Regions from separate parts of the Homo sapiens genome. Here region 1 is linked to region 2. The links come from fine-mapping of genetic effects on gene expression. Tissue or cell type: whole blood. Region 2 holds a variant in brackets; the other region holds the start of a gene. All regions are shown on one strand. Distances are between the middles of the regions.

Region 1 (8,108 bases), 87 kb after region 2:
CAATGGAAGAGGATACTATGAATGTAGAAATATATAAACTTGGGAATATTTTGCCATATATTGGTAAGTGAAACAAGAGGGAACGAAATAGACTTAGTTTTACACACATTTTGGATGCTTCATACACATAGATAGAAAAAAAAAGTCCAAGAGAATAAATGCCAAAGTGTAGACTGCAGTAACTAGTCATTCTTATTTTTCCTTTTCTATGAAATGTTTCTATAATGAACAAGGGTTATTTATGAAATTTCTTTTAAGTTTTAAAAATATTCCTTGTAGATCTTTCAGATTTTAAAATACTGGGGAGTCATTAAAGTAACACTAATCTGAAAAACAAAGACAAGAGAATCTCAACTCTTTTCTCCAACATTAAATTTACCAACCAGAGACCCCTGAAGCCCCCTACAGTTAACAGGCCGCATGCTCTAAAGAACTGAATGCAATGCTAATACAAAGCAAGCTCAGGAAACCCAAGCTACCTATTCTGATTTTGTGTCCTGAGATGTACGGGGTTATAAAACATACTGGCTCAGATTACAGGCTAAGCATGACAAGTCCGTCTGGTACAACCTAACAAAGGAATTTATAGAGAACAAGAAATTTACACATTTCATTTCCCAAGGGTGGAATGAATTACAGAAGCAAAGAACCCCAGTAGAGTTAAGACCTTTCCTACCACTCTGCTATATGCTTCTGAATTGTGCCTCATAGGCATTTCTTACATGATTTACTTATTGCTCTCTAAAACTAAAATAAACTAATATTTTTTAAAGGTGAATAGGAGGAGAAGTGAGAAAAGTGTATTTTAACAGGGTCAAACTTTTTGTGTATTTTCAGGTGAACTGGGGGATGCCAGATCTCCCTACCTCCCTCTTTCTCTCCCTCCCTCCGGAGATCATTATGGCTGATAACAATAGTTTTTCTCTCCCGGGTAGTGTAGATGACACATTTTTCCTGTAGCTTGTCTTCCTGTAGTGTGCAGGAATTCCTGCACTTTCTGGGTGCCCTTCCTGTTAACTTACATTTCAGATTTCCTCAAAAGGCATTCTACTGCTTTAATATTTGAAAAATGTCAACTCAACCCCAGACAGCTAATATAAACAAGCTGAAAAGCATACCACCTAAAGTTACAACTGTGGAAAACAAAATTTCTTTTTAAGAAATTCTTTCTCGGAATCTCACTGTTGGTAAGGCTGTAGAGCAGTAACCCAGTCCTTCCAGCTTCCAGAGAGTCTGTAATTCCTTTGCCTCTGCTGTGCCTTAAATTAGAGGTCTGTTAAACCGAATTATAGTGATCTAGAAAGTTCGTAAAGGTCCTTGAATTGAACATATTGTTAAATTCTTCAATACTATGAGATTGTATCCACTTTTCACTTTTCCTCCCATTTCTTGGGTTAGAATATTAAAAAAGAAGTTTGGTACTGCAAAAAGTATTTTGGCCATTTGAGAATAGCGTAGCTGAATAAGGCCAATTCCACATTTAAAGTCCAGGCCAAGGCGGCTGGCTCTTTTGCCATTTCTAAAATGATCACCCACTTCTTTCTACCAATAATTTTCCTTTCGGACAAGAACCCCATGTTCATTCCAGATGTACTTTCCAAGCAGAATCCAATTAAGAAAACTCATCTGGGTAAATGGGAATTGATTTGAAGGACCACCAGTACCTGATCCATTGTAAACACATCCATAGGGAAGAGTGCAGTGCTAATATCTCCTTTGGCTTCTCAACTCAAAAACTGGCTCTACTAAGAGGGAGCCACGTTCATAGTGAGCCCAAAAATATGCAAAAAGGAGCCTGATTTAGTTTAGACCCTAAAGTCCAAAGATAAGATCACAGTAAACACCACCCTCTTCATAAACCTTCCTGACTATCCCCCAAATAGATAAATCACTTCCATTTTTAAACTCCAATAGCACCATTTCTCTTCAATACCTGTCCTATTATCTTGTATTATAATGATTTCCTTACATTCTTGTTTTCACCAACCCGAAGGAAAAACTTCATTTTAAATATTTTTGTGTGTCCCTAAATCATGTGCACACATACACACACAATACATACATATACATGCATATATATACACACATACATATGTATATACATGCATATCACAATATATTACACATATATTAAACTGAATTGAATGAATGAGCGAATGTTTACCAAATACAAAGTAACTAAATGCCATCTCTTTAATACATCAAAGCATGGACTGCCTCTTCTGAACTATTATTTCTCTACTCAATAAGGAGATTTTTAGGTTTTCCCCACTTGAGGAACATCTCCACCTGATATGTCAATTCCTAGGTTCTTCAGCACTCTTAACTTTTCAGATTTCCATTCTCCCCTAATACTCAAAGAAAAGCAGAGTGCTACTTTGAATGCTTGAGATTACTACTTCCTTCTTGGGCTGCTGAGATATATGACTCCCATCAGGTAGAATTAAAAAGCGGTGCAACAACTCCCCACACTCCCTCCCAAAAAAGTAGCAAAAAGCTTGTTAGACCCTTTAATTTCACCATGTCTTACTCAAAGAGTGCCCCGGGTAGCCTAATTCAATAGTATCTAACACCTCTCTTCATCATCCCATACTTCTCATATGGCATATGCTTTCTCTATGGTAAAGAAACAATTGTTCTGAAACAAGTGACTTGGGGTCCCAGGGGCACCTGACAGCACCTAGTCTGCTCTTTGATGTCATATCAGGAATTTTTTAAATCCCCTTCCCAGGGTGACATTAAGCCTGCAAAATACAACTGTGTTTAAAAACAAAAATTAAGAAAAGAAAATAAAAGAACATAAAGAAAACAACCATAACGTGAACTTCCAACCTATTACAGCTGACTAAATACACGCAGTTACACACTTAAAATATTTCATTATGCTTGTCAATGAAACAGTGCAGTCCCTTCACACTACTGTAATGCTTAAAAGTACAGTTTTACCCCCAATATTTTCCCCCAAGATGCAAAGCATCCCCCAAATGGGCAGACATAAAACATTAGGTCTTCACTGCTGCTTCTAAATTTTGCGAGCCAATAAGCAATTGGTGTAAAGTGCAAAATCTCAGAAGAGCAAGACTCGTCTGCTTTTTTGTGATATGCTGTTATTCACCCTTCACCTTTACTTCCTTTAAAAATCAAAAGTTACCTAATGTTCAAGGCGATATCAATGGAAATTTAGCTAAATACTGGCACCGCAACGGTCTATTTCCCCCAAAGAATATAAGATTACATTAATTTCCTAGTAGTTTAACTCAAGTTTTACCTTTCATCTTCACCTATAGAGTTTTTAAAAGTTTCTATTCCTGTTGCATACAAAATTACTTACAATATCTGTGCATAGTAAAGAATTTTACAATTATATAAAGCCTTGCACATTTAGACGCTACCAACCTGCTCTGTCTCTCCTGACTGTGCAAAAGGCAAAAAGAGCTCAGTAATCCTAGCAGAAGAATGCAAATAACGTCAATGCACAGCTGAACTGCAAGCCCTGCCTTACAGGAACTCTCTGTGTCTGCAAAAAAAGACACATACTAAACAGGAAATGCAACTGAGCTGTGGAAAACCTCAAACTTAAAAATGCACTCGCCAGGCGAAAATTGCATCCATGCATTCATAAATGCATGCACAACCCTTTGCATTTTTGCAACTAATGCAAACAGCCTCTTACCTTTCGACTGAGACATTTTCCCCTTTCCTTTGATGGGGGAGGGGAGCACAAAAGACTTTGCCTTGCTTCTCTTCTGTAGCTAGTTTTGCAACAAAGATGCAAGCTGCAGGCGTGCAATCTTCATGCAAGTGGAGTTTCTCTTGACCGATGCAGCAGATGGACTTTCAGGGAATCAAGATGGAAATGCACACCTTGCAAAACAGACTGGAAAGTGATTTTTCCCCCAGTTGCAACGTTAGGGAAGGCTGTGCTGCAGCTACATGATGGGCCAGGGCTGGCAGCTAAAAGCTCCAAACTTGGAACTGAGTATCTTAGTGCGCAGACGTCCTTCCTGCGAAGGGCGCGAAGGCCGCTGGGTAATGTAGTTCTCCGGCGGAGTCCACGGGGCTCTGATTTAAGGAAACGTGGTCGCCCCGGTCGCTGAGCGAGATAACTGGGTGCGACAAAGATTGCGTCCAGATAAACAAGTCAGACACACACTCAGTAGAGTGATGGGTGAAAAGCGGCAAGGCCAAGACGGGGCGGCAGTTTTGTTCTCGAAAAGCCTCTGAAACAACAGCTAAAGAATATTAGGTTAGCTAAAGAGCTTTTGGCTTGTCGAGAAGGTCTGTTTGGGAGTTTAGTGTGTTGATTTTGCAGCTCAGCACCTGTTGTGCTGTTCTTGCCTGTAGACGTTTTACCCTCACACCTCCGTTTTTTGTTTGTTTGGGGGTTTTTTTGTTGTTGTTGTTGTTGTTTTTTTCCCGAGAGGGAGTCTCGCTCTGTCGCCCAGGCTGGAGTGCAGTGGCGCGATCTCTGCTCACTGCAACCTCCGCCTCCCGGGTTCAAGCAATTCTCCTGCCTTAGCCTCCCAAGTAGCTGGGATTACAGGTATGCGCCACCACGCCCGGCTAATTTTTAGTAGAGACGGGGTGTCAACATTTAGCCAGGCTGGTCTCGAACTCCTGACCTTATGATCCGCCCACCTCGGCCTCCCAAAGTGCTGGGATTACAGGCGTGAGCCACCGCGCCCGGCCACACCTCCATTTTTAAAAACATTTTTTCTAGTAAGAAAAATGTATGGATGATTGGGTTGGCTGGAGGTAAGGTTACCTTTGCTCTGTGGAGAAGATGCAAAGTTTTATTTTGTCAGAAACAATCCAGGTCAGTTATTTCCAAGGAACCCGAAACTCAGTAGGGGGTAGGTGTGGGGAAGAAGATTGGAGGCTTCTCATTTCTCACAGGGTTACAGAGGAAGTTCTGCTTTTTATACATCAACGCTAACTTTATCAAAATTAAGGTATCTAGATGATTTTTTCTCACCTGGGAGGAGAGTCCCTGGCCTAGGGGGAAAGTGGGTGGAAAATGAATACAGTCGAATATCTTGAATTTATTCATTAAAATTAAAAGATACTTGTTGAGTGTCCAGGATGTGCCAGGCGCCTTTCTAGGGCCCTGGGATGTTCATTCATTCTGTACCGCTCACACATAGTGGGTACACAGCACCCTGATGGAGAACGGCATCACCTTTTTCACAAGGAAGCCAGAGATGCTTAGCACAATTCACTGCAAGGAATGGAGAGGAGTGAGCAGGGCATGGGCAAAAATGAGCTCGGACTTATACTTCATGGAGCAGACAGACTCAGAAATGTTCTTTTAAGACAGAGGGAGGAATTGAGGAATTCAAGGAGGTGTGGACAAAGCACTGTGGCAGAAATAAGGACAACCTTACTCAGAAGCTGCCAAGGAGACCTTGTTGCCTTGTGTGCAGGAGTGGTGAGGGCGGGGGAGATTTACAGGTGAGGACTCCACAGGGCCTTAAAAGGTGGGCTAGAGGTTTGGACTTTATTCTGCAGGTACTTGCGGGGAGGTGAAAGGGTCTTGCAAAGGGGCGTAACTTAATCCAAGCATTGTTTTAAGAAAGTAAATTTGCCCTCAGCAATCAAGGTGGGTTGGAACTGGGAGAGGCTAGAGATAGGTTAGGTCAGTAGTGAAAGGCAAAAAGAGGCACTTTGAAAGAAGATTCAGCTAGATTTGATGATTACTAATGAAAACTATTGGAATTGTATTTAGGATGCTGGAAGCCAGGACCATCTGCATAAGGGATGCATTAGAGGGAAGGAAGCCGTCTTATTTCAGCTGCAAACCAGCAAATCAAATCTTAAATATGCAATAGGTTGTGAGACTAACATTAATTTACTTAAGTTGGTCCCCTTTACTGACATTCTTGACAATTAGTGAAGGCAATCTAATCTCCATATTAGCTTCTGCCCCTAAGAGGAAGGCATTGCTGGTCTGTGAACACAGGTGCAAGGACTTTCTAACTCTTTTATTGTCCTTCTAGGCTAATCCATGTTGTCCCTTCCCTCCTATCGTATACACACAAGCTCAGCACCCCCTCAAACCAGCATGGTTTCCTAAGTCTCATTTAACCAGGAGACACGTGTGAAAATCTAGTTCACTTTCCCAAACACTGATGGAGCCAGGCCCTGGGATAGCTGCTGGAGCTTTCTGTAAACTGGCTTAGCCCAGGCAGGGCCTGAACAGCCACCTAGAGCTTGCTTCAATTTGCATTTTATGTGGTCAGCTGCATTGCTCTTAAGTAGCCCCAGACTCCCTTCTTTATGGAAGAGTTCTAATCACAACTTGTCTGGTGCATTTTGCCACTGTCATTACTGCTCTTACTTTCTCTGCATAGGCGTGCGGAGTCCACAGCTGGCAAATGGATTGTAGCTTGAAAGTCAATCTGCAATTCATTTTCCCATAGCACCAACAATATGTTCAGCAGCTAATATACACACACAAGCACACATGCATACACAAAACACCTCTCATCCATAAATTGGCTGAATCATCCGTTTAAAAATAGCAAAATTTTGTATCATATTTCTTTCTGGGAAAAATGTATCCTGAATTTCAAGTAGGAAATTGGGATGACAGGGAACTCAACCTCTCTGTGAAGTCTTGGTTCCCAGAAGAAAAAGTTCTTCTTCCTGCCTTGGTGTTCAAAAGTTTCCTCTCCCACATACGTGGGTGGTGGAAGAGGAGGTACCTGTGCTCTTCTTCCTGCCAGTCTTCGTGGTATCATTGGTACTAGGAGGAGAATCCTCCCCATTGTGGCGTAAGAAGGCAGGAGTGAATTCTGGCAGGTGTCTCCTTTTATATGCACATCAAGTGTTCATCTTCAGGTGGCCCATGCTTCTGTTTTAAATCCCCCATCTTTTTTTTTTTTTTTTTTTTTTTTTTTTTTGAGATGAGTCCTCGCTCTGTCACCCAGGCTGTAGTGCAGTGGCGCAATCTCGGCTCCCTGCAACCTCCACCCCTCAGGTTCAAGCGATTCTCCTGCCTTAGCCTCCCGAATGGCTGATGTTACAGGAGCTCACCACAACACCCAGCTAATTTTTGCATTTGTAATAGAGACAGTGTTTCACCGTGTTGGTCAGGGGGTCTCAAACTCCTGACCCCAAGTGATCCACCCACCTTGGCTTTGCAAAGTGTTGGGATTACAGACGTGAACCACCGCGCCTGGCCTCCCCCATCTTTTTAATTGTTTGTTTGTTTTTATTTTTTTTTTTAATTTTTTGAGACAGAGTCTCACTCTGTCGCCCAGCCTGGAGTGCAGTGTCATGATCTCAGCTCACTGCAGCCTCCACCTCCCAGATTCTCCCACCTCAACCTCCAGAGTAGCAGGGATTATAGGTGCATGCCACCAAGCCCAGCTATGTTTGTTTGTTTGTTTTTAGGGACAAGGGTCTTGCTTTGTCTTCCAAGCTGGAGTGCAGTGGCCTGATCATATAGGTCACTGTAGCCTCAAACTCCTGGGCTCAAGAGATCCTCCCACCTCAGTCTCCCAAGTAGCTGGGACTGCAAGCGTGAGCTACCATGCCCAGCTAATTTTTGTTATTTTTTATTGTAGAGACAGAGTTGCTGCGTTGCCCAGGCTGGTCTCAAAGTCCTGGCTTCAAGCAATCCTTCTGCCTCAGCCTCCAAAAGTGCTGGGATTACAGGCACCAATCTTTGTAATTTTCTGTACTTCAGATCTTTCTAAAATGCAAGTCAGATGCACTCTCCTCTCAGTTTCTAAATATACTCAGGATCTATTCCAAACTCCATGGCATGGTATAATTGGTTCCTCAAGACCTGGGCCCTGCTTTATCTCCAGCTTCATTTCTCATCGTATGTTGACATTAGAGTCAGGAGAAGGCAGCTTTTCTCACTCCTTGCCATTAGGTACATGCTCTCATGCTCGCTCTCTCTCTCTTTTTTTTTTTTTTTTTTTTTGAGACAGTCTTGCTCTGTTGCAATGGCATGATCTTTGCTCACTGCAACCTCCACCTCCCAGGTTCAAGCAATTCTCCTGCCTCAACCTCCTGAGTAGCTGGGATTACAGGTGTGCACCACCACATCCAGCTAATTTTTGTATTTTTAGTAGAGAAAGGGTTTCACCATGTTGGCC
Region 2 (8,108 bases):
CCTAGGAAGATCTGCCCTTTCTCCCCACTGAGAATTTGTCATTGCAACTTTTTTTTTTTTTTTTTTTTTTGAGACAGAGTCTCACTCTGTCACCCAGGCTGGAGTACAGTGGCACAATCTCAGCCCACTGCAACTTCTGCCTCCTGGATTCAAGCGATTCTCCTACCTCAGCCTCCTGAGGAGCTGGGATTACAGGCATGCACCACCATGCCCGGCTAATTTTTATATTTTTAGTAGAGATGGGGGTTTCTCCCTGTTGGCCAGGCTGGTCTCGAACTCCTGACCTCAGGTGATCCGCTGACCTTGGTCTCCCAAAGTGCTGGGATTACAGGCATGAGCCACCATGCCTGGCCTTGTTTTTTGTTTTTGTTTTTTTTTTCTTTTACACTATAATGGTGATGGCAGACACTTGGTTATAGCTTTTTTTTTTTCTTTTTAGTGTTAGTAAAGGGTGGTCACCCTTATCTTAGTAACCCACTATTTTCTAAATCGATCTGTTAACTACTACAAAGTTAGCAATGGAAGTAGAATAAAAAATGCTTTTCCACTGTTCTGCCCTCCCCTTTTCCCAACCACCTGCTGTAATTTGAAAAACTTAAGAGAGGGATAGAGTAATACTTATTTACATTTTCCCTGTTCCAGAAAGGATTAAGATAACAGATGAGCTTATGCAAGGAAGTTATAACTTCTTCTTGGGCCAAATGGAAAGGTAACTTGATGTTGATCACACCTGGGCTGAAATTACAAGAGAATTTGGCTCGAATACTTTTGTTGATGAGTAAAAAAGAACAGACTGAGAAATGCCAGCTCAGGAAGCAGAACAGAGCAAACAAGGGCCTGGGGTTTTCCTCATGCATGGAGATCCTGTGTCTCTTTGCACTTGGCAGGGGAAACCAAGGGAGAGCTGCATAGAATGGCTGGAAAGAATGCTACCTTCTGCCCAGGCGCGGTGGCTCATGCCTGTAGTCCCAGCACTTTGGGAGGCCGAGACGGGCGAATCACGAGGTCAGGAGATGGAGACCATCCTGGCCGACACGGTGAAATCCTGTCTCTACTAAAAATACAATAAATTAGCCGGGCATGGTGGCAGGCACCTGTAGTCCCAGCTACAGGGGAGGCTGAGGCAGGAGAATGGCGTGAACCTGGGAGGCGGAGCTTGCAGTGAGCTGAGATCACACCACTGCACTCCAGCCTGGGCGACAGTGCAAGACTCTGTCTCAAAAAAAAAAAGAAAAAAAAAGAATCCTACCTCCTTTCCCACCTCTTCTCTACATTGCAGATGAGCACTCAGAGATAACACAAGCCCTGGATATGGCCCTGGATAGATCCTGAAGCTGCAAAGAAACTTAAACCAATTAAAATAACCTCCTTGCAGAAAAATAACATCCAAAGACTTCAGTGACTTGCTCCACATCACAGAGGTCAGCAATGACCCAGTCAGAATCAGAATCCAGGTCTCCTGACACCCAGGTGGGAGTTCTTTCTACTATCCTGCAATAGAAGACGTTTAGAGATGACTGGAGAGGGGGCAGGTGAGACGTACCCGGGATTTTGAGTTTTAAAATACCCAGCTGACATCTGGTTCTTCCACGCATCACGCAACTTCTAGAATCACTTTTCATCTGACTCTCAGTTTTCTCAATTGTAAAATGAGGAAGTAACAACCATACTCACCTCACTGGACTGATATGAGAATCAAAGCAGATAACATATATGAAAAAACATTAAGATACCTTAAGTAGCTGTTAATTAGATTCATTTAGGGAAACAATCAGTACTGTCTCATTTTTTTTAAAGTCATTTAAAAAATTAATGAAGAGAACTGGCCACATCATTATAGCCCACTATAATGTATAATGAAATTTTTCAATTCCTTCAGAATCCAAAATCAGATCAATTCTGCCAAGTTGTATATAGCCAGGAAAAAATATGCTTCGCAGTAATCAGCCTAGAGAAAGCCTTTTAGGACCACCTTCAGAATAAGAGGCTTTCTCAATTCTCTCCTCATTTGGGTTTACTTATGTATTTTATAAGGTTCAAAACTCACCATTCACTTTCCTGCTCTTGGAACTCAAACAGCTGTTAAGGATGTTACTAAATTAGTCAGTTATTGACATCGCATAGAGCTTTCCTATGTACCAGGAACTATGCTAGGTGCTGGACCCAGTTATGAGAATCCAAATAGATATATGGCCTAATTCCAACAATTCCCATCCATGCACCTCAGCCAAACAGACAGGGAATGTTACTTTCGATGAGATTCTTCAGTGAGGAATGAATGACGGATTCAACTTGTTTAGATAACTATACAGATAACTACATACAAATTCCAGTGCAGGTGACAGATAATTCAGGTAATCCCAAAAGGCGACCCTACAGTTCTCTCAACGAAAACAAAAACTAAAGTAACATATATTTTGCCTATGAAAACTGGTCTCCAGTTGTCATTTAAGCAAACCAAAAGCAGAAGTTACTCTTAAATTCCTACATCTTTCTCTTCTTTACCTCTAACTCAGTTCTTACAAGATAGATGTAAAGAGAAATAGCTATTTATTGAGAAAACCCCTTTGGAAAACTTTAATATAGCAAGTAATTAGTAGCAATTCTTAACAGCAATTAATTATTACACCATAACTTAAATCACCAAAACATCTATACAAAGAAACAGTAAAAAAGAGAGAAAGTTTTTAGCACAGAGACCAAAGGAATAAAAGACCAAAATAATAGTAAAGTCTTCCAAGTGGGAGGAGAAGGCCTTTGATTCTCTCCCCAGATCACTGTTACACCCAGCCACCCCCACAGCCCCCCACATCAACATCATTCTTACCCTGAATTTACTGCCTCCTAGTTGAAATTGCCAGCCTCCTGTCTCCAGACTCTAAACCCTTGACTATGTATATAAGTTGGACATCTGCATATCTTAAACCTAATATTTCCAAGTATATCAGCTCCTCAGAACAACAAGAAAAAAAAATAGATCCAGGAGACACAAAACCTAGTTGAATTACAGTGTTAGAAAATACTCTGCCTTCACGTTTACATCAAATAAAATACAAATCACAAGCACACACAGCAACACTCTGCAGTTCGCTTACTTGCCCATCTCTGACAGAGCAGCACAGTAAGAGACCAGCAGAGGCGACTCTGGTGAGGTTTTCGAGGCTGCAAGGAAGACCAGCAGAGGAAAACCTAACAGAAGTCATTCTTCACTTAGCTCCAAAGACCACACTTCGGCAAGGAGAAACAGAACTGAACAGACTCCACCCCCTCCTCAAGTTCGGATTGCAGCAAACCTCTGCAAGCTCATTGTTCCGAGGAAATTGCAGCTTCAGGAAGGGAGAAGGGAAGTGGGTCTATGTGGACACCCAGGCGTGACATTAATCATTAACCAGACTTGGAGGAATAAATCTATAAATCTGGACAGTACCATGTTCTGCAGCTTTTCTATAAATGCCTCTTTGATTTCTTAAAAGAAAGAAAAACAATATGTGGTCAGTTTCCAGCTGTGTTTACTTCACAGCAATCTGTTCCCCCAGGAAGGCAGCCAACACCTGACGCTAACATTGAACACTGTTAAAAAAAAAAAAAAAAAAACATGGGAGGGAGCACTATGAATAATAAAGCTAAGTGGCCAACTATGTTCAACAGTCTTTGCCTTTGATATTCTAAAGCAAAGCAGAAAAAATGTCAGAAAAAAAAAAAGGCTTTCTATGATGTCATATGCTAGCAACAAGCCTTCTCGGAAACAGAGAATTCTGTAGATTTCTGCAGATCGCAACAAGCCTCGACTGCTTATTGGCACAGTCTGCAAAGGGTAAGCCTCGTCGGCCTGATTGGGCATATGCAGCACTATATTGCATCAGACCCTGTTACCCGCATGACTGTGTTCTCTGAAAATAGTGTAATCCCACCACACACATATATTTGCAAAATTCATCTGAAACCAAAGCAAAGCTG[G/A]GTCATTATAATCCTGGCCTGGAGCAAAATGGCACTGGAAAAAAAAATTTAAAAAGCCTTGCCAATAGTTAGAAAATATTTACCAGGCCACAGAAATGTTCGCTAGCTTTGACTGCACCGAAAATGATGGGGTACACGAGAGGTCTTGCACACACTCTGAGAGGGTAAGCACAAAGCACTCCTCTGATGTTCCTCATTACATAAAACAGAAGATTATGTTCCACTGCCAACCCAAACAGCATGAGAAGCCCACGCGGTCAACAGAAGGTGGCATCGTGAAGATATGCTGATGCCTAAATATTTGTTAGCTTGGCCGAGGGTTGGGGGCACGACTATGAGAGTTTATGATTATTGACACAGCTTCACAAAAGGATGGCAGTGTTTCCAGTGCCAAATTTATTTTAAAAATCTGTTTCCCAATATGAATGGGATTTCCAGCCAAGTAACTGGCAATCTAGAGGCCTTGGCTGCCCTCTCCTTACTACTTGCATCTAGGCTTACGTTCCAAGGGTAGTTGGCAATAAAACCAGCAGTGAAGTATCATTCAGTGTTATTAAATTGCAATCATCATATGCAAAGCAACGAACGAAGCAGGGCAGGGGAAGAGGCATGCAGGAAGAAAGCTGGCTTTGCAACAGCAATGTAAAAGTGAACAGGGACTCTGCCATCCTCCAATCTTCCAAAACCACTGGCTCTTATATACCACTGAGATTCCAAACACTGAAGACAAATCTCTCTGGAATTACAGAAAGTTTAGAGAAGAAAAGCTGAAAACCTCTTTTTTTTTTTCTTTTTTTTTTGAGATGGAATCTTGCTCTGTCACCCAGCCTGGAGTACAGTGGCACAATGTCAGCTCACTGCAACCTCCGCCTCCCGGCTTTGTGTGATTCTCCTGCCTCAGCCTCCTGAGTAGCTGGGATTACAGGTGCCCGCCATCACGCCCAACTAATTGTTGTATTTTTTAGTACAGATGGGGTTTCACCATGTTGGTCAGGCTGGTCTTGAACTCCTGACCTCGTGATCCACCTGCCTCAGCCTCCCAAAGTGCTGGGATTATAGGCGTGAGCCACCATGGCCGGCCTTTTTTTTTTTTTTTTTTTTTTTTTTTGAGACAGAGTCTCACTTTGTCACCCAGGCTGGAGTGCAGTGGTCCTATCTAGGCTCACCGAAACCTCTGCTTCCCACGTTCAAGCAATTCTCATGGCCCTCAGCCTCCCGAGTAGCTGCGACTGGGAATACAGGCACGTGCCACCCCACCCGCCTAATTTTTGTATTTTTAGTAGAGATGGGGTTTCGCCATGTTGACCAGGCTAATCTCAAACTTCTGACCTCAGGTTATCCGCCCGCCTTAGCCTCCCAAAGTGCTGTTACTGGGATTACAGGTGTGAGCCACTGTGCCCAGCTGAAAAGCTCATTTTAAAACCTGCAGTCAGTTTGATTTCAGAGTCAGAATGAATCTCCTAAGACCTTACCTTTGCTCATACTGTTCCTTCTACCTGGAGGGCTCTAGCTGTCTTGCAGACAAGAACTCAACCTTCCAAATTCAAAACCTCCCTCATAGAACCTTCCCAGAGCTTCCTGAACACAATCTAAGGATTACTATCCACACATTCCTGCTTTCACATTCTGGCACCTTACACTCAGCCTGCAACACAATATGAGCTCAAAGCAGCTTCCCTGAAACTTTGATATTTTAGTTGAAAAATGTCCACTCTCTCTACAATAGATCTCCACGACCATCTTCCACTCATTTCCCGCAAACCTTTTCTCACAATCTAGAATTATTTTATTTTTGTATTTATTTATTTACTTCTGCATTTATTTATTACTTGTTTATCTACCTTTCTCCACTAGAATATAAGTTCCATGATGGCCAATGATTTTGCCCAGCACCTGCACATCATAAATATTTGTTGACTGAATGTTTGTTATTCTTTTCTCAACTGTTTTGAACATTTGTACAGAGCTCTTCAAAAAACAAACAAACAAAATGAACAACCAAGAATGGAATGGAAATTGCACAAACCTCTGCATCAATAAGAATCATTTCAAATCCCAGCTGTCCCACTTAGTGACGTAATGTTGAGAAAGTTTCTTATCTTAAACTGAGTTTCCACACCTGCAAACTGGAGATGATGTACAATCTCCGCAGGTCATTAAGAGACTCGATTGACACAGTGTGTGTGAAGAAGCCTAGCAGGGTGTAGCATAATATAGGTGCTCAATAAATACTTCCTTTTGTCCCTTCCATGTTTACGCTTACATTTTTAAAATATGAGTTAAGCAGAATGTTCCCTGGATGGCATCTTATTTCTTCAAATTCCGTGCTCCATTCTCCCTCTTTCGTGTTATTTACACTAGAATTACATTTTTCAAACATCTCATCAATCTTGAATCTACCTCTCTTTGTGCCCACTGACTATGGGAACTTCTCCAGGTCTATAGACTCAGGATTTCTGGGACTGAGTGTAGTGAGTGCTTATAATTTTACATTGCCTCAGTATCCATTTTTAAACCTAAGTTAAACTATCTCACATCAGAAGCAGGGCTCAGTCACTCTTAACACGGTGTCTAATACCACACTCCACCAGATTGGCTCCAAACCAGTGGCCAGACATGAAACTTAGAGACATCTCTCCTGCCTAGCAGGCTGGCCTCCCTACTTTCCTGCCACTCCCTTTAAACAGACCATGCAGACATTTGCCCACAAACGTAAGGTGACCACCTCTCAGTCACGCTGTGACCTCCTAGAACTAGTGCCTGCTTGCTTTAAACCCAGCAATTAAAGCTCCCTGCAGGAAACTGGATAACGCCCTGTACCCAATAAAGACATTGGCTCAGTGGTCCCTTCTCTCTCTCTCTGCGTGCACGTGTGTGTGTGTGTGTGTGTGTGTGTGTGTGTGTGGCTTCCAGGTGTGTGTGTGTGGCTTCCAGGCGTGCTGGGTGCCATACAGAGTCTCTAAGTGCTAAAAAGTCTTAAAATCTCACATTGTAGTTGTGTCACTGAAGCCACACTTGCAATCCTATCCCTATGGGTGAAACTGCCCCAAAAGGACCCATGCAGGTGGGTCCCCTGCTGATGCCCTTTTGTCCAGGTCTCTCAGCTACTGGGGACAGTAGTTACCAGCTAAGTTGATAGAGTGAGGCTTCAGGATCCATATATTTTTTTAAGTTTCACAAGTGTCTGAGAAATCAGCCACAGTTAAGTAGCCCTTGTCTACCACATGTCTATGTAAAGTTGTTTTGTGTTTGTTTGTTTGTTTGTTTGTCTTGTTTTACCATTTCTCACTTTATGTTGCCAACGTCACTTTCCTCCAAGGCTCTTGTCACATCCCCCACAACCCACCAGTTCTTTCTGATTAGTAAGAATTAAATTCCAAGCTAGCTCCTCACTGTGTTATCTCTATCTTTGAGCTGAAATTGTCAATCATTCCCCAGGGTACACATTGCAAGGGTCAAAACTTATTAAGATGCAATTCTGCCATCGAAGCATCAGGAGATATGAAAACCCAACTCCATAATAACAGCGGGTATGTGTGATGTGCAATACAAGCATTGCACCCTGAAAGCAGGAGAGAAGAAGCAAGACAAGCAACACTGAGAAATGGTCTCACATACGAAGTGGTATTTGAAGTGGCCCTTTGATTTTGGTAGGATTTAAGGGTACCTGAGGGTTTGTTATACTGTATGTCTTCTTTATATATTTAAATATTTCCAAAATCAAAGTTTAAAAAGACCATGGGTGGGATTTTGACAATCAAGACTTGGAGAGACAATAAGGGGATTCAAAGTAAAATGAGGATGAAATATCTTTGTAAGGAGAAGCACTGTGGTATATTCAAAGAATTCTGAGTTTTCTACTCTGGACAAACTGAAAAGTGGTGGAGAGAGAAACCTGGAGGAGGAAGTTGGAGTCAGAGATCAAAATACTGTAACAAATATATTTTAAATTTCAGATGTAAAAAGAGAAGTCATGTATGTTTTTCAGTAGAGGAACATCATGCCACATCCATGCTTCAGAAAAAAAAAAAGATGTAACAAGATGAACTGATCTAATAATATCAGGATGTTTTGAAACTGTGCTACACACACACTCATGCATAAACCCACATACTCTCATGCCTTGATGTTTTATGCCTCCAGGTCTTTGC

Evidence for each region. PIP is the estimated chance that this variant, and not a neighbour inherited with it, causes the effect.
Region 1: MAP2K6 starts here. The variant in region 2 is fine-mapped to the expression of MAP2K6 in whole blood (TOPMed, PIP 0.98).

Annotation. Positions count from the first base shown.
Region 1 is chr17:69,410,566-69,418,673 of GRCh38, reverse strand. It overlaps MAP2K6 (mitogen-activated protein kinase kinase 6), which reads right to left and starts at 3,977. Exons shown (of 12, transcript NM_002758.4): 1 at 3,674-3,977. The coding sequence starts at 3,689.
Region 2 is chr17:69,497,405-69,505,512 of GRCh38, reverse strand. The region is part of intron 1 of MAP2K6 (mitogen-activated protein kinase kinase 6); the gene reads right to left. Among named protein-coding and RNA genes, the nearest start is that of MAP2K6-AS1, 16 kb to the right of the region's middle. RefSeq lists enhancers at 1,371-1,430, 1,501-1,550. The variant G/A (reference allele first, on the strand shown) is at 3,958.